2 separate regions of the Homo sapiens genome follow, and region 2 is linked to region 1. The links come from fine-mapping of genetic effects on gene expression. A gene starts in region 1. The other region holds a variant in brackets. All regions are shown on one strand. Distances are from middle to middle. Region 1 holds the start of LINC02226 (long intergenic non-protein coding RNA 2226). Region 2 overlaps LINC02226 (long intergenic non-protein coding RNA 2226).

Region 1 (10,060 bases):
CTTCTTGTTCCTTCTTGACAGAACTATCTGATGATGAAACGACCCAGACTCAATTTTCCCAACTTCAGAGCCTTTTCTATCCATGATCCCTCATTCCTGCCTTTCTTGCCATTCCTGTCCTGTCTCTCAACCTGACAATGAAGCATTTATATCGGATCAAATGAAACTCGCATACTTTCTGTGACTTAAAATCAGAAGTTTCCCTTGTCAATTTCCCTTGCCACCTCTAAGAAAAGCTTATCTATGTTAAGTTCCTTTTTACTGATTTGTATTTTTATGTTCCCCCAAAATTTCACATTGATATATAAGAATTTTCTGTTGCTAGTTTAAATAATTTTCTGCATGATTCAATGATTATAAATATTTATCTCCAAAATAATATGATCTATTTTTCTTTATTTATCCTCAGTATATATTTCCTTTAACTGAGATCCAGTCATCTGAAGTATCTAGGTAGACTTGATTTGATATAAAATTATAAACTAACCCTCTTAAGAAAATGTCCAAAGTGACATTTAGACATTTGCTCTTTCATGAAAGATTCTAACATATATTATTGTGGTTATTATTATCAATATTATCTCCAAAATTATATTGCAACTCTTTAGTTAGGTAAGTAAAGATCCTGCTCTTCTGGAAACTGCCTGCTTCCCTTTCCATAAAATAGTTAAGTTTCTTTAACTATTTTCTTCTAATTCAAACGCTTTACCACATGACTTTTTTTAGACCATTATGGAAAAGAAAGTCAAAACATTGCTGGGTATAAGGATTCCTGGACTCTGAAACATCAAAATTTCAAACACTAATTATTCTAGTCTAAGTTATAACCAGCTCATCTTGAAACTAATGAAGAAAATAAGAGCTAAATGTGTTTAGCATAAGTCAGATGATTATATCTGATCAGTGAACATGAATTAAGAGTTTAACAATATTATGCATGAAAAGAATAAAAGTGAGGGAATCACGTATTTTCTAGTTTTCCAAACAAAATGCAGGTTTTCATGGCAAGTAATTGACTTTCCCAGGTGATTTTATTAATTGAAAACCTGAGGTACTAAAAGTTTATTCAGTCATACTTGTTTTATTGTACATTTTGTTTTATTGAGTTTCACAGATACTGTATTTTATATACATATATATATATATATAGAAGGGTTGTGGCAGCCTTGCATTGAGCAAGTCTATCAGCGCCATTTTTCCAACAGCATGTGTTCAGTTTGTGTATCTGTGTCACATTTTGGTAATCCTCACACTATTTCAAACTTTTTCTTGTTATTATATCTGTTATGATGATATGTGGCGAGTGATCTTTGATGTTACTATTATAATTGCTTGGGGGCACCAAGAGCCACACCCATAGAAGACTTTAAACTGAACTGGTAAATATGTGTGTTCTGACTGCACCAGCAACCAGCTGTTCCCCATCTCTCTCCCTCCCATTAAGTCTCCCTGTTCCCTGAGACACAATGTTAAAACTAGGCCAATTAATAACCCTACAGTGGCCTCTAGGTGTTCAAGTGAAAGGGAGACTTGCAAGTCTCTCACTTTAAATCAAAAGCTTGAAATGATTAAGCTTCGCAAGGAAGGCATGTCAAAAGCTGGATAGGTTGAAAGCTAGGCCTTTTGTGCCAAATGGGTAGCGAAGTTGTGAATGCAAAGGAAACGTTCTTGAAAAAAAATTAAAAGTGCTACCTCAGGGAATATAGGGATAATAAGAAAGTGAAACAGTCTTTCTGCTCATCTGCGGAAAGTTTTAGTGGTCTGGAGAGATTCAAACCAGACATATCATTTCCTTAAGCCAATGTCTAATCCAGGACAAAGCCCTAATTTTCTTCTTTTCTATGATGACTGAGAGACATAAGGAAGCTGCAGAAAAGTTTAAAGCTGGCAGACATTGGCTGATGAGGTTTAAGGAAAGAAGCTGTCTCCATACATAAAAGTGCAATGTGAAGCACCAAGTGCTAGTGTAGACACTGCCACGAGTTATCCAGAAGATCCAGCTAAGATCATTGATAAAGGTGGCTACACTAAACAACAGCTTCTCAGTGTAGGCAAAATAGCCTTATGTGGAATGAGATGCTGTCTAGGACTTCATCTGACATGCTTTATTGTGATATTCACTTTATTGAGGTGGTCTGGAACTGAACCCCCAATATCTCTGACATATGCCTGTAATTTGCAAGGGGGAAAACAACTTTTTGCTATTACATTCAAAATGGATTTTGAAAGAGTCAGTTTTCTTTTTTCTTTCTTTTTTTTTTTTTTTTTTTTTTTGAGACGGAGTCTTGCTCTATCGCTCAGGCTGGAATATAATGGCACAATCTCTGCTCACTGCAACCTTCGCCTCCCGGGTCCAAGCAATTCTGCTGCCTCAGCCTCCCAAGTAGCTGGGACTACAGGCACATGCCACCATGCCCGGCTAATTTTTGTATTTTTAGTAGAGATGGGTTTCACCACATTGGCCAGGCTAGTCTTGAACTCCTGATGTCGTGATCTGCCCACCTCGGCCTGCCAAAGTGCTGGGATTACAGGCGTGAGACACCACCCCTGGCCCAGGAGTCAGTTTTCTATATCACTTGACTTTCTTTGCTCAGAAAGTCCAGCAACATGTTGCTCTAGGTCTTTGTTTAAAAAAATGTTATTGTGCCCAAAGTATTTAAAAATTTCTAAGACTTAGTATCTATTTCCTTATTAGAACTAAGAAAAAGAGAGCTCACAGGTAGTGTCTGATCAAAAACCACAAGCTTGCTGCACACTTGGCCTATTTAGGATTCAAGTTAGAAACTGTCAACTGAGAGATGTTAATTATCTTCTTTTTAAAAGTTGCTTGTAGATCCACTGTTTTAGCCCAGAATATTTCATAAAATGACACTGATACGTTTTGAATATATGTCCCCACCAAATCTCATGCTGAATTTTAATCCCCAGTGTTGGAGGCGGGGGCTGGTGGGAGGTGTTTGGGTCGTGGAGGCAGATCCCTCAGGCTTGGTGCTGACTTCCTGATACTAAGTTCCTGCAAGATCTGGTTGCTGTAAATTGTGGCACCTCCCCACCACTTTTCTCTCTTCCTCCTGCTGGCCTTCCACCATGAATAAAAGCTCCCTGAGGCTTCCCCTGGAAGTCTAACAGATGCCAGCAGCATGCTTGTACAGCCTGCAGAACTGTGAGCCAATTAAACCTCTTTTCTTTATAAACTACCCAGTCTCAGGTATTTCTTTATAGCAATACAAGAATGGACTAATACAGACACATCATTTTTTTGTGTGTGGTAAATTCTTCCAATTTCTCACCTTGCATTCCCAGTGCTGCCCTAACTGGACCTGGGGAGTTTCATCATACTTTCTTCAATACAAAGATTGTGAATACCTATGAACTCTTTTAAGACAATTTGTATTCTGCCATCAGGCTTCCTAAGCTACCTTGTGGATCCACATGCAACAGAATCAGAACTTTCAAAGCAGTCACCAAACATGTAACTGACAACTTAAAAAAAAAAAATTCAAAATGAAATTAACAAGCACCAAGGGTGTTATTATTCTCTTATATTTCTTTTAGCAGCATTCCATCACTATCTGCTTCTTCCACTTCAGAAACCTGCAAAACTGCTGTAGAATATCAAGCAGTTGTTCTAGTGAAGTCAATTATTTTTTAGCTCACTGCAAAACATCTGTTGACCCACGTTTTAGTCTTCTGTTCACTCTCTTCCAAGTATGTACTTGGGAAAACAACAGGACATCAACCAGGCAAGCTCATTACCATTTTCCACAGATAAATCTTTACAGTCGGTGTGAAAAATCTCACCCTGAACTATGGTGGCTGTAGTGAAAAGAACCATGGACAGACACAAGTATGACTTGTGAACATGATTCATAAAGCACCCAGAGCCCCAGTGTGGCAACACCAGATGAATGAAAAAGGTTCTACCATGTTATCAAAATCATGTCATTCTCACTTTCCCTCAACAGTACCTAAATTTTAAAAAGAATATAAGCATAATGATGAAATACTACAAAAGTATCAATTGAGATCACACTGCACTCAATGAAAATTATCCATGTTTATGAAAATAAAGATCTGTATCCAAAAAAATAGCAAAGTGTCCACAATAAATTATAAACACCAGGACATCAGGGACATTGATCTCTATATCCCAAAGCCTAGAAAAGTGCCCAGCACCTAATAACAATACTAACTTTTGAACATTTCACCACGTGCCAGGCACAGTTCTGATATGCTCCATGTTTCAACTTAAGGCTTACAGGCCAGGCTTACAGGCCACCAGTGAATCTATAAAGTTTCAGTTTATATATGAGAACTGAAGCACGGGATTAGATAATATTCCGAGACAACACAAATTAGTAGCAGATGGGTTAAACTCAGGCCGCGCATGTCTAGAATATGCACACTTACATGCTTGTTGAAAAAACTGTGTTGATTAGTATCAAACTAGCTTTAGAAAATAGAAGTTAAAAAAGGCAATAGACTTTGGCAAATTATTTGAGTAAAACGTCAAATGTCAGATATGTCGAGGCATGGGTAGCCTTCTAAGGGGTCACGTCTATGGAAGGAAAAAGTTTGGCTTAACAAATAGGAAAGTGAGAAAAAGAATGAAACAGTAAAATAACAGGATCTCGTGATGGGGAAAAGGCGGCCTGCCCAGACCTAAACGCCTCGCGGCCTCGCAGGCGACGCGGGGATGACTCAGCAGGACAGAAGGGAGGGAAGCTCCAGACGCCACGGCCCTCTTCGAGATGAAAGTACCTCCCATCCTAAGGGACTGGCGTTCCAGGAACAGCTGCGCTGGCTGAGCCGGCTCAGTGAGGCGGAGCGGCCAAGCCTTCAGTCCACTCCCACTCCCCGATGAAAAACCCAAGACCGGGTAGCGCAGCCCCTCCGCGCACGCGTAACACGAGGAGACACCGCCCACACGCCAGACGCGCTGTGATTGGCCCCAGCTACCCTCGGACCGAGATTCCTATTGGTCCCAGGTGTCGAGCATGCGCACTTTGGTCGTGGGCGCGTGTGTGGAATGGGAGGAGGTCGCGCTGTCCATGGGCGTCCTTGGCCTGCGCCACCCAGGTGAGCGCTCCGGAGGCTGCGATCCCCGGGTCCCGACCGCCCGCCTAGCACTGGCCTGATGGGGAAGCGTCCCGGGACTGGAAGGGCAGCCGGCTTGCGCGCGTGGTTCCCACGCCCCTCGGGCTCGGGGGATCGCTCCGGGTGCTGGCTGCGGGCTCGGCGGGGAGGACCCCGGGAGCGCGTCCCTGGGCCCCACGTCGGCCTCTGCGCGGGCAAGCCCCTGGGCTCTTTGGCTCTAGACGCTTTCCAGGCCTGGGGAAACCGCATGCGTGGACGTGGGAAACGGGGCGCGTGACGGGGAGGGGCGCGCCCCGGGGGCCTGTGGTCGTTCCGAGCTTCCACCTGGCCCGACGCAGGCATGTGCCCTGCCCGCCGCGTCGTCCCTGGGCCTGCGGGGGCTGGGGCCTCAGCTGAGAGTCCTGGGAAGGTGGTGCTGGATTGTGGCTCTGTCGCGGGGATGAGGGGTTGATCTGGGAAGCCCTCAGGATGTGTGTGTGGCTCCTGGAAGGTGACGCACATTGTTAGCTTCAGTAAGGTTTTCAACACCATGTTTCCGCAGAACTTGGTCATAATAACTATATCGCCTTCTAATAGTGCTTTTGGGGAGTTACTCATTTTAACAGCTACTACGTGTTGAATGTCCTCTTGTTTGCCAGGTGCAGTTCTCATCCCTAGGGGTGGAGAGTTGAAGAAGATATATTCAGTTATTTTCTTTTTTAATGCTTGAGCTAACAATGATTTTATCCTTTGCTTTCTTAAAGGTTTAATTTGCTCTTAGGTGGACAGAAAAGCATAAACTGAATTTTAACTACAAGTTGGTCACAGTTGAAAAGCCTCATGTGTGGTTTGAGTTTTAGCTTAGATCTCTCCTTACATGTCTTTCCTGACAGCTCCTCAGATTTAGACAGTGTGAGGATCAAAACTGTATGAAGGTGCTTTACTCTTGATAATCTGTGAACGTCAACTAGGAAAATTTTGAGTGTATTAGAAATGTTTTTCGAACTCTTTGAGAGTCTAGGCAATTTCACTTGGGTTCTGTGATTAATTTGCAAAGTATTAGGATGAAATCAAGAAACCTGCAGTTTTAATTGAATTGACTTTGGTTTTGTTTCTCAAAAAGTGGGACAACAAAAATACCTACTTAAGACTACTGTTTCAGGCACTGTCTAATTGCATTCATCAGATCTTATTATATTCATTCCATGAGGAATCGAAGACCTATTCAGTCAAGCAGCAGCCCAAGGTTACACGTCTAATAAAGGGCACATTCCCAGATCAAGCCCATGTAGGCTGACTCTAGATTCTGATTTTGAACTGCTCTGTTTCTGAATTGGAGTTTAACTCCTCTGTTACCCCTAGATTAATGGTGAGTATTTTCTCTCACCCAAGTTAATTCCATTAACTCTAATCAGAACCCTAATTTAGCATATTTCCAGTACAGTAGTTGCGGATCCATCCTACTCTAGAGTTTTTGTGCTATGTGTTAACTGTCTTTTATAAATGAAGGGACGGCTTCCTCTGTAACATACGGGAGCATTGTATAATCTTTGAACAGGCAAAAGCATTCCAGAGAAAAGATAGATGAATTTCATATATTTTTATTAAAACAATTTTATTAAAACATAGATAAATACTGGATTATTTAAGCAAGTTGCAGTCTATGTAGGTTAACCACTAAGCTATGCTTCCTCTCTTTGCATGCGTGTGTGTGTATACGTGTGTTTTTCCTAAAGATACATCAAGGCTTAGTACTTTCACAATGAGTTAAGTCCTGCGCTGTGCCTTGAAAGATGAAGGGAGGGAGTTAGAGGCAAAGATGAATTAACAGGTTAACAGGATCCGGGTCCAAGTCCTTAGATGCCTATTAAAGAGTTCAGGCTTCACTCTGCGGGAAGTAGGAAGATTTTTGAAAGACTAAGTACTGGAAGGACATGATCAGGTTTGCAACTTAGAACTATCACTGTGGCTGCAGACCTAAGAGTAGACGAGAAGGGTGGGTAGAAAGGTTAGGAAACTACATTTTCCGAAGAAAAACATGGAAAGAACTGAAAGGGTGATCCTGGAGTCAGAGCCAGGTAGAGAGTTTAGGGATTTAAGGAGGATTTGGTAAGAGATTTATTGTGAATCCTACATCCTAAAATTTTAATGTTTTTTTTTCTTTTCTAGAGATGATAAATAGCCAAAGACGTCAATGGCACCCATGGACATAGTAAGCATAGTAGGAGCTGAAAAACTAGAAGCAATGACAATGTCAACTATTTTGAGCAAAAAGAAGCAGTGTCTTCGGAACATTTGATCATAAAACCAGAAATTAAAGGATGAGAAAAACATTTTTCTGAAGCTTATACTTTCACATTTCCTAGAGAGCATATTTGTGTGGATGGGGGTGGGTAAACACTCAACAAAAGTTTCTTTAAAAAGAAGAAACCATCCTGGTTTGATGTAATCAATGGTTGCCCACTGCTCCCTTCCTGTGCCTGTGACCCTTCCCAAACTGCCCTGTTGCTTGCAGGCTCGCCTGAGCTGAAAGGCAGCCCTCACATCCCGTCGGCACCTCCCTGGGGCCTTCTTTACACCCTGGAGAACTTCACAGGGAATCTGTGTCTGTAACACAAAGGCTTCCTGGTCCAGATGTAGATACTAAGGCTGACTGGTTATTTAAGTCCTGCGGACTTACTCTGCCAAAATTATTTAATCATGTAAAAATAATTTATAATTCTTATAAAGTATCCCCTTCATAATATAATGAATGTTGGTGCTATTACATTTAAGTGCACATGTACAGTATACAAGATTATTAATAATAATGTTTTCAAATAGTTATTGTCAAAGCTATTTTTCTTATGTTTATGAAAGTGCTTATAAAATTCATGTTTTATGAGGCTGGAGATGTATATTTTGTAATTTCATTCTGATATTTGTTAATATTCGCTTCCAATGCTGGTTTTGTTTGATGAGACTGACATTGCCTAATTTCAAGCTTTTTGAATGTGTATTCTTTCAGGGCAAGTATGAAATAACTAGTAAAAAATATACAAATATGCTTAACAATAAGTAGACTTTCTCACATTGATTACTTACAACAGCTTTATGTGGGGTGAATCAGATGCCTGTATTACAGAAGCATCTAATGCAAAGCAAAATAAAAACACTTGCATGAGCGCACAGAGGTAGGTGTGGAAGAAAGTGAAACACTATTTTAGGTTTTAGTTACACTCTGCTGTGGTGTGCTGCCTAGTATTTGCAGGTTAATGCAAATACTAGGGGTTATGAATTGTTTCTAAGTTTATTATTAAAAATAGCCTTGCTTCATTTCTTCCTAAAATGGAGACAAATATGTATAGTGTCTGTGTTACCAGTATGTGTAAGAGTAATATCTTAATGCGTGTAAAATGTTTATAGGAACCTGTATTTCAAAGAGCTATTTTTGCAAGTGACACTATCCTTTTAAGAAACTTTTTTATTCAAACTTTTTCCTCCATTTATAACTATTCTATTATTTCTTAATGTTCAGAACCCTTTTCATTATCTATAAGGTTAAATTTTAGGTAAGTAATGAGAAAATAATAATATGTGGAGAAGAAATGAGTGAGGAGTCGAGATGTGTGTCAATCAAGAATGAGTTTGTCAGCCCTTGTATTATGATTTTACTCGGGAGGGGATAATTATTGAAGGATGTAATGTAAGGGCAGTGATACTATATGGTATGTAAGACTGTTAAAATCACTGAGGTAAGCTATTACTTGAACTAAGCATAGAAATAGAGACAGATTTTTAATGCATTTAATTATCAAAATATCTAAATTAAAGATTTGATGTGGTTGTTCACTGGAAACAAATGGCAGACAAACAGAATATTTCTTGGAATCATAAATGACATCATCCTGTCTCCAACTTTCTGTGTAGCTTCTTTCTTTAGTTGGTCTTTGCTTAGATTTCCCTGTGTCAGAGACGACTTCCCTGGATATCAGTGACAGTTATTGATTGCTCATGCTATGAACTCCTCCCATTTCTCAGCCCTCTTGCAGTAGGTGGGGCCATGGTACTAGTTGTGGCTTATTGCTTAAAGACTTTAAGGCTCCATGTGTGACTTTCCAGCTCTGGTCCACTGCTACTGCGGCTCTGGCAGGACTAGGGAGGTGCCCCGTGTCTCAGATGGTGCAGCCTCCATCCAGCTGTGTCCCTGAATGACTAGAGCACAGCCACTGGTGACCTGTGGTGGACGTAGAATGTGGGTAAGAGATAAACTTATGCTACACCGCTGGGGTTCAGGGGCTAATTTGTTACCACAGCATAGTCAACCTTTTCTAGCACCCCATTCTGTCTAAATTTAGTAGTCCTACCCCACTCCATGCCTCCCCAACCCTTCCCCTGGCTTTAGTTTCTTTGTAGCACTGGTCCCCGCATGACCTGTCGTTGCTTTACTTTCTCGCATCACTTCTCCCTGCCTCCAGCACATGCACTAAAATTTAAACTCCATGCCTGGACAAAATCAATGTTTGTTAAATAAAGTCTGCCAGTTCTGTTTGCGATTTTTCAGAAACAAGGAAAGAAATCCTATATAAAGTTGATCTGTGCTTTGGCAATATTCATTTAGGGTAATTGCCCTTTTTTCAAATGGCTGTGCATTTTTTATGATGATGAATATAAAGTATTTAGCAGAAATATTTTTTATTAAAATTGTTGAGCTTATGGAATCAATGTAGCAGCCTATGTGAAAGAAACACTGTGCTAGAGAGTTGTCTTTCTGCCACGTGTAATCATTACATTTAACTCAAGTTCTCCATGGGAGATCCATGCAGAGATATGAAAATAGGACGGACGTCTCTTCCTTCTTAAAAGTTGCTCCAGATTTTGGCTTCAAGTGCTTCCTGTTTTTTGCCCTCCCTTATCCCTGGGAGTTCCCTCTATTTACTTTCACAAGGACTCTTGGTATAAAAGATATTTGTATACCTGGGTGTGTGGGAAGGAATTGAAGGCA
Region 2 (10,060 bases), 120 kb before region 1:
TGCTCTAGGGTTGAACCCCAATCAAGAAGGAGCCCTGGAGTCCAGCTCTTCCTGCAGAGGCCTGCAGCTGCACCTCCCTGAGTACCGCCCTGTGGGCACCTGCAGCTGGCCAGTTCCTCCTCAGCCTTTCCTTGCTCAGGAGTGGCCTGGTCCAGCACTGCCTCCCTGGCTTCAGAGCCCCCTCCTCTATGGACTCATGCTCCTTGGATCTGGCATCCTGAGTGGAGCCCAGCCCAGTTAGAACACTGGACTTGGTCCCTGAAAGCCGAGCCAGGGCAGCTGCTCCCTCATCCGGGAGGGCAGCCAAGGTCTTAGAGGGGGAGCAACTTCTCTGTGGCAGGAAGGGCATGGAGAGAAGCCTCACAGGTAGCCTCCTCTCCCCACGCCTGCTCTCTTCTCCCCATGAAGCTTTCCCCTGAATTCTGCTGAAGACCAGGCCTCAAAAGGGGCACTGCCTTTGTATTTCGCCCTTTGTTTCTCTTTAATTCTAGAAAACCCTGAGTCTACCTTGGAGCACACTCTTGAATGTGACCCATCTAATGTCATCTTGACCCCAAGTCCACTTCCTTCAGGCACGCCTCCTTCTTCATTTTGCTGCCGCCAGCGCGTCTGCCTCCAGACCCTCTTCCTCTATGTAGGAGAGGCCACTCTCCTTCTAAAGCAAACCTTGCTTCCTTTTGCTGGAAAACAGCAGCTGCTGACCCACGGAGATCCAGACTCCAAAGGTGGCCCACAACCACCTTTACCCCACGATTTGTTTCCAATCTTCCTCGTAGCCTATCCCCTTACCCCACCACCTGCATGATTAGATTTCTCTGCAAGAGCAGAGATCCACCGTAATGGCAGCTCCAGTAAGAAAGCTGATTTCTGGCTTCTAAGAGAGTCTGCAGTGCAGTAGTCCTGGGTTGAAGGTTAGACTCTGCTGCATTAAGCACCTGGGGATGAGGCTCCTTCATTACTGCTCTGTCTCCCTAGAAGATGCCGTCCTCCTGGGCCTTCAGATGGACGCCAGTGTGGGATTTTATTGGAATGCACAAACTCCTGCACTGGCCAAGAAAAAAGTGGTGCAAAAAGCAATGCACAGGAATGGCTTGAGCAATGCAGGAGATGACGCCAAGCAGCCATGTGCCAGAGGGACCTGGGGAGCCCGCGGCAGGGCTTGGCGGTCAGCGGTGAACACAAGGTGGACAGTTTGTCCTCAGAGCCCAGTCACCAGGTGCATCCGCTTCACAGGGTTGGGGCCCGAATCTCTCTGTGCAAGGAGAGCATGTGGTTGGGCTGGTTTGAGTCTCACCCTTGGCAAGAAAGGACATCCCACTTTGATGGCTTTTTACCAAGACTGCACATGTTTGGAGCTGTGAAATTCTCCAAAGCAAAATTGGGGTGCTGCTGGCTTGTAGAATTCAGGTGTATGCTCCCCAGGAGGAAATGCCCACTGCTCACTAGAGATGGACAGTTCAGAAGAAAACTGGGCAGGACATTATCCCAGCAGCAGGAGTGGGTAAAGAAATGGGCAGGCAGAGTGGGTAGGGAGGGAGTGAGGAGCTGAGGAGCTCACTGGAGTGACAGTGAGATGGCTCATGGGCACAGAGAAATAATTCAAGCCAGAAGCCAAAAAAGTAACCTGAAGGCTGCACCAAGCAGTTTTGATGTCTTGCGTATAGTGGGAGGCAATAGATATTTGTAGGGTAGAATGAAGGGAAGAAAGACTGATTACAGGGAGGCCACTTAGGAGGTGACCGTGATATTCAAAGAAGACTCAAAAAGACAAGCCAAGGTAGAGGCAGTGGGAGTGATAATGCTGAAAATAGATTTATTTTGGAAAGGGGAATTTAAAACTGTGTCTTTTCCAGTGAAACCATTTCTCTGTTGCCCAAACTCAGTGCTGCCGATTGTGGCCGCACAGGCTGTGCAAGGCACATGGAAATGAATGGCTCCCCTGAAGTTGTGGGACGAGGCAGCCCTGCCTGGAGCTTCTGACATATGCAGGCAAATAAACATCCAGTACTTTCTCACAGAGATCTCCGGTGATAGGATAAATCACACATCCCAGCAAAGCAAGGGAAGAAAGCCAAAAATATTGAAGGCAGGCAAGGAGGGACCAGCAAACAAAGGACAAATAAAACCATAAGAAGGATTTTATATTCTAAAGATGATGGATCTTGAGCCACAGACAGAAGAGACGGATAGTTAGAAGCAGAGCAGCTGCAGAAAGAGGAAATCAGCAATGCATGTTTAATTTAACAGTTCAGGAAATCCAGTTACCATTTTTATTCGAGCATACTGGTGTGCTCTGCTATTCTCAAGAAATTATTTCCTTTTAAAAGTCCTGTTATTTGACTGTATCACGATAGAAATGGCTACCCATTGGCCATTCCCATCTCTTTCTCCAGTGCCTGCCTCCAGCTACAGAAGCCAGAGAATCAGGCACCCTCTTCCCCAACATTCTGCAGCTGGGAGGGGCCTTGTGGTCCCATCACATGGAGAGTGAAGGGCAGGGTGCCAGGCTTGTGGGAAAGATGTTTCCTTCTCTGTAGAAGAGAGGAGCTCTCTCCTTGCCCTTGTATCCCAGCTTCCTGCCTTGGCATGTTGAGATGTGAGAAGCCACTTTGCACCCATGAGAGAGAAGCAGGAGAGCTGTAGAGATGCTGACCCATGTCCTGACATCATGGGGCTTTGGAGAGCACTTGGAACCACCTTCTCTCTCTTCAGGTAAACAGTATATGCTCTTATGGTTTAAGCTGCTGCTCCCTGGGCTTTCTGTTGCACACAGATGAAGATACCTGAGTTCATGCAGTCCAAAGTGAAGGGTGTAAACACATTGCTTGTATAACAAGTACTTGCATGGACATGACTCTGTAATGAGGTCTATTATTTAAGATTACCTGTTATCAAAATTAGATAGGTGATTCACTTTATATTTTACAGAAAAAAATTTCTTGAATAAACCCAGTTATATGATTGGCCATCTGATGATAAAATGTACTCAAGCAGTAAAGAAATATTACTAATTGTTTCTTCTGGATGTTACTCCCTGGAAAAAAGGGTAATATTTATAGAATTGATGAATAATTATAGTATTAAATAATTATTTTCAACATCTCAATCAAAATTATTCTCTTAATTTTCAATAGTTATCCAACATTTCAATTTTTATAAAACAAACACAACTTTTTCATGATGTAAGTTTCAATGGTTGGTTATTTATTAATTGAAGATTTTTCCGTTTCTAATATATGACAAGCATTTTGCTTCAGGAATCAGTATCTTTATCTCAGGTTTCTTTTTTCTTTTCTTTATTCCTGAAGTGAAATTACTGGGAGCTGGCATATCAAAGATATTCTGACCTTAAACAATTAGACAAACTAATTACAGTCAGGTTTTTAAAAGAGCAGGCATTTAATTTCCACAAATCTCTATGTTGCCATATTCTTACAAGTTGTTTCATGCCCCACGATTAGCAGGCAGTCTGTGACAAGAGATTTCTTCAAGGCATTGGGATGGATGAGCCTTGTAAGATGTGGTTAACAGATTGAGTACAAATTTACTTCAAATTTCATTGACCCATTGTCTTACAGGTCAATTTCATGAATTGTCTTACAAGACAATTAATGAAATAAATAGGGATTTAAAAGTTTCTTTTAGGTCTTGGCATAAGTAGGCCGGGCACGGTGGCTCACGCCCGTAATCCCAGCACTTTGGGAGGCCGAGGCGGGTGGATCACGAGGTCAGGAGATCGAAACCATCCTGGTTAACACAGTGAAACCCCGTCTGTACTAAAAATACAAAAAATTAGCCAGGCGTGGTGGCGGGCGCCTTGTAGTCCCAGCTATTCGGGAGGCTGAGGCAGGAGAATGGCATGAACCTGGGAGGTGGAGCTTGCAGTGAGCCGAGATCACATCACTGCACTCCAGCCTGGGCGACAGAGCAAGACTCCGTCTCAAAAAAAAAAAGCAGAAGGTCTTGGCATAAGTAGATCATGAATCAAAAAATGAACCTGTCAGTCTTTGGGAAATGTGGTTAAATCTACCGAAGTAATACATTGAAGATCATGAAGTTAAATTTGCTGAATGATCTGTTGGATTTGCTATGGCATGTTTGGCTCCCAGAAAGTTGTTCCTTAAAAGACAAACAAAAAAACCTTTAAATCACAATTCTATTTATTTATTTCTCTCTTTGCATGCCAGACTTTTAAGAACAGCAACACTTTGCATGGCCATCTCCAGCAGGAGGTAGTAGAAGAGTGCTGAAGTTGGTGGTAGAAGCTGAGCTCATTATCTGAACATAATTAATCTCTATGTGATCACAACATCCATGTTGACACAATTAACATTAACTTAAAAATATTGAACATGGATGTGTCAACCTAAATAGCAAACAGAGAGAGGCTCTCTAAAAGTAAAAGATATTTATTGAGGCATGGGCATTGCAAAGGGCACATGTGTGCCTTAGTAAACTATGTACACATTCAGGGAGGTAAAGGAAGGCTATGCTTTTAAAGAAAAAATGAAGAGTATTACATAATTATTTTAAAATGATTATTCTTGGCTATGTTGATCAATAACAAATATGATGCTACTCCAAGGTTGGACAAGCAGTTTTTGGGGTGATGTCCTCGCAGAAGTATTTTTTGGTGTAAGTTCCTGAAAGCGTTTGTGCAAGGATGTGGTTTTTGCAATGTTTTGTGATAGTTTTTGTTGTCAGGCATACAAACATGAGAACTCTTTCTTGATAGCTTTCCTCAGCTCTATTTGTTAGAGTTTTTTTTTTTCTTTATTTTTTTTTAACATAAATGACTCCATTTTGATACTGACAATTTCCAAAGAGACAGTTCAGATTTTTCTAAAAGGCCTAGCTATTTGCAAATGACCAAACATCATAGTCATCAAGAAATTTGGAAAACTCAGAATTCCTTAAATTGCAGGTCTATTATTTAGGATAACCTGATTTCAAAGCTAGATAATTTATTAATTTTCTATTTTACAGAAAAGGATACTCTTGAATAAACCCGATTATATTAGATACTGAAGGTTAATTTTTCCTGAGTTTCAGTGCTGTTCAAATTATACAATGGCTAACCTGGACTGCAGGTGAAAATCGCCAAGGAATACTTAAAAAGCAGCACACCCTGCCCAGTGTGAAAGGGCTTTCTGATGATTGTCGTGTGCAGCCATGGCTGAGAGCATCCCTGGCTGGGCTAGCACTTGTGCCTCAATGCAGTGCTCTCCTTAAGTATTAATCGAGTGAGCTCAGTTGTTGCCAGAAAAACATAAGTTGGACTCAGGAGAGCTTCTCTCTTTCAATTTACCTAAGCCTGCTTTGTTTGATGCGTTAGTCAGCCAGGAGATGTAGACTGGTGCCTATGAAAAAAAGAAAACACTCAGAGAAAATGACAGCTCACTTAGGTCTCTGGCGTGAATTGCTGCTTTAAAGAAGGAGAACAAATCTTTTTTGGAATCCGAAAAGCAAATTGCTCATCTCTGCTTACCTTAAACAAACAAACAACTAATCCTTGTGT[C/A]TCTGCAGTATTTGTAATATTCCCTTTTATTTCCAAGGTCCTGTGTGCCTCAATACTGTACTGTAGACAGGTGCTGTCAGGCCATCTTCCAGGCAAACATGGAAAGGAATAGTGATCAACAGTCAGGGGTACTAATCAACATAGGCCAAGAGCCCCAGCGATTTTCATTCTGCGTTCTTCCTGCTTCTATTTTTTGAAAGTTTGAAATGTACACACTTTATGTAGCCTGCACTGTGGAAAGGCCATCAGTGTTAGCTGCTCAGGTGGAAGGACACAGAGAATGCCCTGCTTCCATCTCCTTCTTTTCCTAACTGTGTGATGCTGAAAAGTTCCTGACTTGCTTGCTGAGCCTCTATTTCCTTCTCTGCAAAAATATGGCTACATGTGTCTGTGAGGGCCAACTACCAAAAACGAAGAAACAAAAATCCAAATATACTACCTGGCACATAGTGGAAATAAAAGATATTATATTATTACTCTTTGCTAGTATTATACCTACACTTCATTTTCAATTGTAAAAAGCATCACACTTAAGCTAGTAACCACTATTCCTTAGGGAACTGTAGTAAACTGACCCTTGATCATCTTCAGGATAAAAGACTTAGCATTGCATCTGTATCTCTTTGTGGTCTGCCACCATGTACTTGTAATACCCACTGAAGGATATTCTTAGGTCCAACTAAATTAAGATGTGCAGAATCACCACGAGCCATGCTTGGCACCCACTGTGCTTACACAGGGCAGAAGCCACAGCATGAGTGTGAAGAGACAGCTCTCCAAGGAGTTTCTGCACGTCTTGCACACACACCTTCTGTTGTGACTGTCTTGTCAAGCACGATGTGTGACGCACTGGTTATCCATGGATGGCCACGCGGTTCCAATGCACTCTGCAATGTTGCTCTAGGATAAACAATGGGATTCTTTTCAACCTTTCTCCTTGAAAGCCAGTGTGATTCTGAGGCTTTTAGTAGAAGACACTTGGGACTCTGCAAGAGGAAAAGACTTCCTACAATTCCAGTGTGGAGCGAGGTGAAGATGTAGATGTGAGGACCTCAGGAGGGTCTGCCACAGCCACAGTTAGGATGTGGTCTTTCTGCATCCTGCAGACTTGGCCTGGTAATAACCTTTCCACAACCATCTTGACCAAGAAACCAGAATCCCCCAACATCTGCCTGATTCCAAGGCCTCCTGACTGTGCTGATGCCAGGACTCCCTCTGCAAGTCTCCATGTGGCCACCTGCACCTGAATGTCACCTTCTGTCCCTCCTGCAAACCCCTCCTCCCACCACCACCACCTTGTGAAATCCATGTATTGGAAGGCTCTCTGCCTCCACCAGCACCCAGGATCCCACTGCCTGCCTGTGCAGATTGCTGTTCATTTGCACTCCCTCCTGCATGGCAGAGAGGATTCTGATATTTTCAAAAGCAACTCCAGACCAGCTCCAGCCTGGCAACACTGAAAACTTCTCCACTATCTGCTGGTTAAACTATGCCTTTTTCAGTGAGGCCTAACTCCTTCTGAGTTTGTTCTTCCTTGGGTGCTCTCCCTTAGCCTTAGGGCACCATATAGAGTTTTCTTATGTTGTATAGTTAGCCTTTAATCAAATTTAATAATTCTTTTTATTAAACATCTCCTTTTTAACGGTGGTATGATTTGTATCTCATGACTGGATGCAGACTACTACATCTAGCAAAGAGAATTGATAGACAGAGACAGTATCTAGCTCTGGAGCAGAAGATGGGGTTGTTTTGCCACCAATGTAATAAGATAATGTAAAAGTTGGGCAGATCTGCTTGCTGCCCATTATTTAAAAAATTGATGTTTCCTGAGCTCTGGGTTTATCAGCTGTAAGACAAACTCTCCACCTCTGCATGCACAGCATCTACCCAGACCCACCTGTGATGCCCCTTGGGGGCTGGAGGATTCAAAACCTGTGTGAATATGCAGGTAATGCTTCCTGCTGTGCCTTGATGAAAATGAATCTCTTTGTCTCTAACCTAGAACTCTCATATCCTCTGCCAGCATCTACACAACTGTGAAAGGATAACTTCTTAGTTTGCAAGTAGAGGAAATTTTCGGAGACTTCATAATTCTTGACAGCAAGCAAGATAGAATCAGGGGACCTATGGGAGCTCTTGCATCAGTCTCTGCAACTGTTTCAGCAGTCAGGTGGGCATTCTTTTGGCTGCTTTCTACCCCTGACTCATGTAAGAGCTCAGGTGCAGAGAGATGAGATTCATATATGAGTGGAGGTTCCTCGCTGGCCTAAAAGCCTCATGTTGCACAGTAGCCAAATGTCTTACAATTCCACAGTTACAGCTTCCAAGGTCTCTGTAAGAACATGCCAGCACCAAGAGTCACCACACTCTGGGAAGCCCATAGCTCTAGCATCTTGCCAGGCATTTATTTAGTTCTCTTAGGCTGCAGAAATTTGCCAGTCAAGGGTCTTTTTCCCCATAATCAATATTGTCTTTTGATGTCATTGAAATTCTTCCTTTATCTAATTTCCACGGAAATAGAGTTAGAAAGGTAATTAAAGATGAAGTCCTAAAGCCAAAGGAGAAAAGATCATATTAACTCCATACTCAGATTGCCTGTTCCACATTTTCTTTTTTAAGTTGTGCACATCAAATTCTGTTTTCTCTATTTTGTCAACCTTTTCGTCAACTTAATATACCAAATTATCTCAAACCTTTCTCTCCCTGAAATGCCCTTCATACAGACCCTTTGTTTACCTGTCATAATTAGCATGTATCTTCAAGGATAATCTCTGGAAGATGGCCGACTAGACGCAGCCAGAAAGAGCATCTCCCACCAGGAGAGACTAAACCACCCAGTAGACAGGTACACTCTGAACAAATCCTCAGAAAGAAGGCATTGAGAATGGACAGAGGGAGGATGCAGACCCTGGGGCTGAAAGGGGAGAAAGGTGGGAACTGTGCGCAAGGTTGCTGAGCACTGGGACTCATTCCTGGCTGAGGCTCACCATAGTCCTGTAGGTGGCATTAGCCATTGTTAGAGGCCAGACCTGGAAAGAGCAGGGCTGCCCTTCCCACAGATTGGGGCCAATCTGATCTGAAGATCCCTTGTGTGCCAGCCTCCCCCAAGAGCCCTAGCTGGCCACACCCCTTTTCAGCACAGCCTCAGCTGCTCTGCTGAAACAGTTGACAGAAGCTACTGTGCCATAGTTCATTCACTGGCAGCCCCTGCCTTCCCCTCAGAGCGCTTTGGCAGGCAGATCCCTGCTGGTGTGCACTCATCTACAGCCTTCCCCTGCAGGAGCACTTGCAGCCTTCTTATAATGCTCCACTACCATGCACAGCCCATCCACCACCCTGTTGGTGCACACATGCCTGCTACCCCCATGCTTCTCTGCCAATGTGCACTCACCCACGGCTGCCCTGCCACCCTACTGATGTGCGCTTTCCTATACCCCCCAACCACAGTGCGCTCTCCCATGGGCCCCCTACTACCTTCCCACCGAAGCATTTTTGCTGGCAGCTCCCATTGGAATGTTATGCCAACAGACTGAGAACACATCAGCCCCTCCAGCACAGAAGGTGCTTGACCTTGAAGGGCCAGAGAACAAAGAAACAGGCCTGGTCCCAGCCCCCCATCAGGGTTGGAGCAGGCAGCCTGGGAGCGCTGACCAGAACCTTGCTCCCTTGAAAAGATTCAGAAATGAAACCAATCAACTAAATGCAGCTTATACCACAGCCAAGCCCTAGAGGGCACCAAATAATATTAAAGCAAAGAGCCCCATTTAAAGGATAGCAACTTTAAAGGTTAAAAGAACATCAGCCCATATGGATGAGGGGAAAAACAAAACAAAACAAACAAAAAACACAGTACAAGAATTCTGGCAACTCTAAAAACAACAATGACTTTTTACCTCCAAATAACACTAGCTTCCCAGCAATGGTTCTTAACCAGATTTAAGTGGCTGAAATGACAGACATAGAATCCAGAATCTGGATGTCAAGGAAGCTCAATGAGATACAGGAAAAGGTTGAAACCCAATCCAAGGAAAATAGTAAAATGATGCAAGAGCTGAAAGACAACATAGCCATTTTAAGAAAGAACCAAACTAAACTTCTGAAAATGAAAAACCCACTACAGGAATTTCATAGTGCAAATGGAAGCATTAATAGAATAGACCAATCTGAGGAAAGAATCTCAGAACTTGAAGATCACTTCTTCAAATCAACACAGGCATACAAAAAATTTAAAAAAAGAATTTTTAAAAATGAACAAAACCTCTGAGAAATAGGAGATTATGTAAAGAGAACAAACTTATGAATCATTGGCATTCCTGAAGGAGATAGAGAGAGAGCAAGAAACTTGGAAACATATTTGAAGATACTGGCCACGAAAATTTCTCCAACCTTGCTAGAAATGTTGGCATGCAAACTCAGGAAATTCAGAGAACCCCCAGAGAGACGCTATACATGATGACCACCCCCAAGATACGTAGTCATCAGATTCTCCAAGGTCAATGCAAAAGAAAAAATAATTATAAAGGCACCTAGAGAGAAGGGGCA

Evidence for each region.
Region 2: its variant is fine-mapped to the expression of LINC02226 in testis (GTEx, PIP above 0.99).

What each region holds. Positions count from the first base shown.
Region 1 is chr5:8,452,688-8,462,747 of GRCh38, forward strand. It overlaps LINC02226 (long intergenic non-protein coding RNA 2226), which reads right to left and starts at 4,877. Exons shown (of 6, transcript NR_039984.1): 1 at 4,762-4,877. MIR4458HG (MIR4458 host gene) reads left to right here and starts at 5,000. Exons shown (of 2, transcript NR_039989.1): 1 at 5,000-5,079; 2 at 7,246-10,060. MIR4458 (microRNA 4458) reads left to right here and starts at 8,238; the gene lies at 8,238-8,312. It also overlaps the pseudogene LOC100419318. RefSeq lists an enhancer at 4,590-4,689 and silencers at 5,210-5,259, 5,270-5,329.
Region 2 is chr5:8,331,693-8,341,752 of GRCh38, forward strand. It overlaps LINC02226 (long intergenic non-protein coding RNA 2226), which reads right to left. Exons shown (of 6, transcript NR_039984.1): 4 at 5,489-5,603; 5 at 2,886-3,034; 6 at 1,791-2,760. Among named protein-coding and RNA genes, the nearest start is that of LINC02226, 120 kb to the right of the region's middle. The variant C/A (reference allele first, on the strand shown) is at 5,519.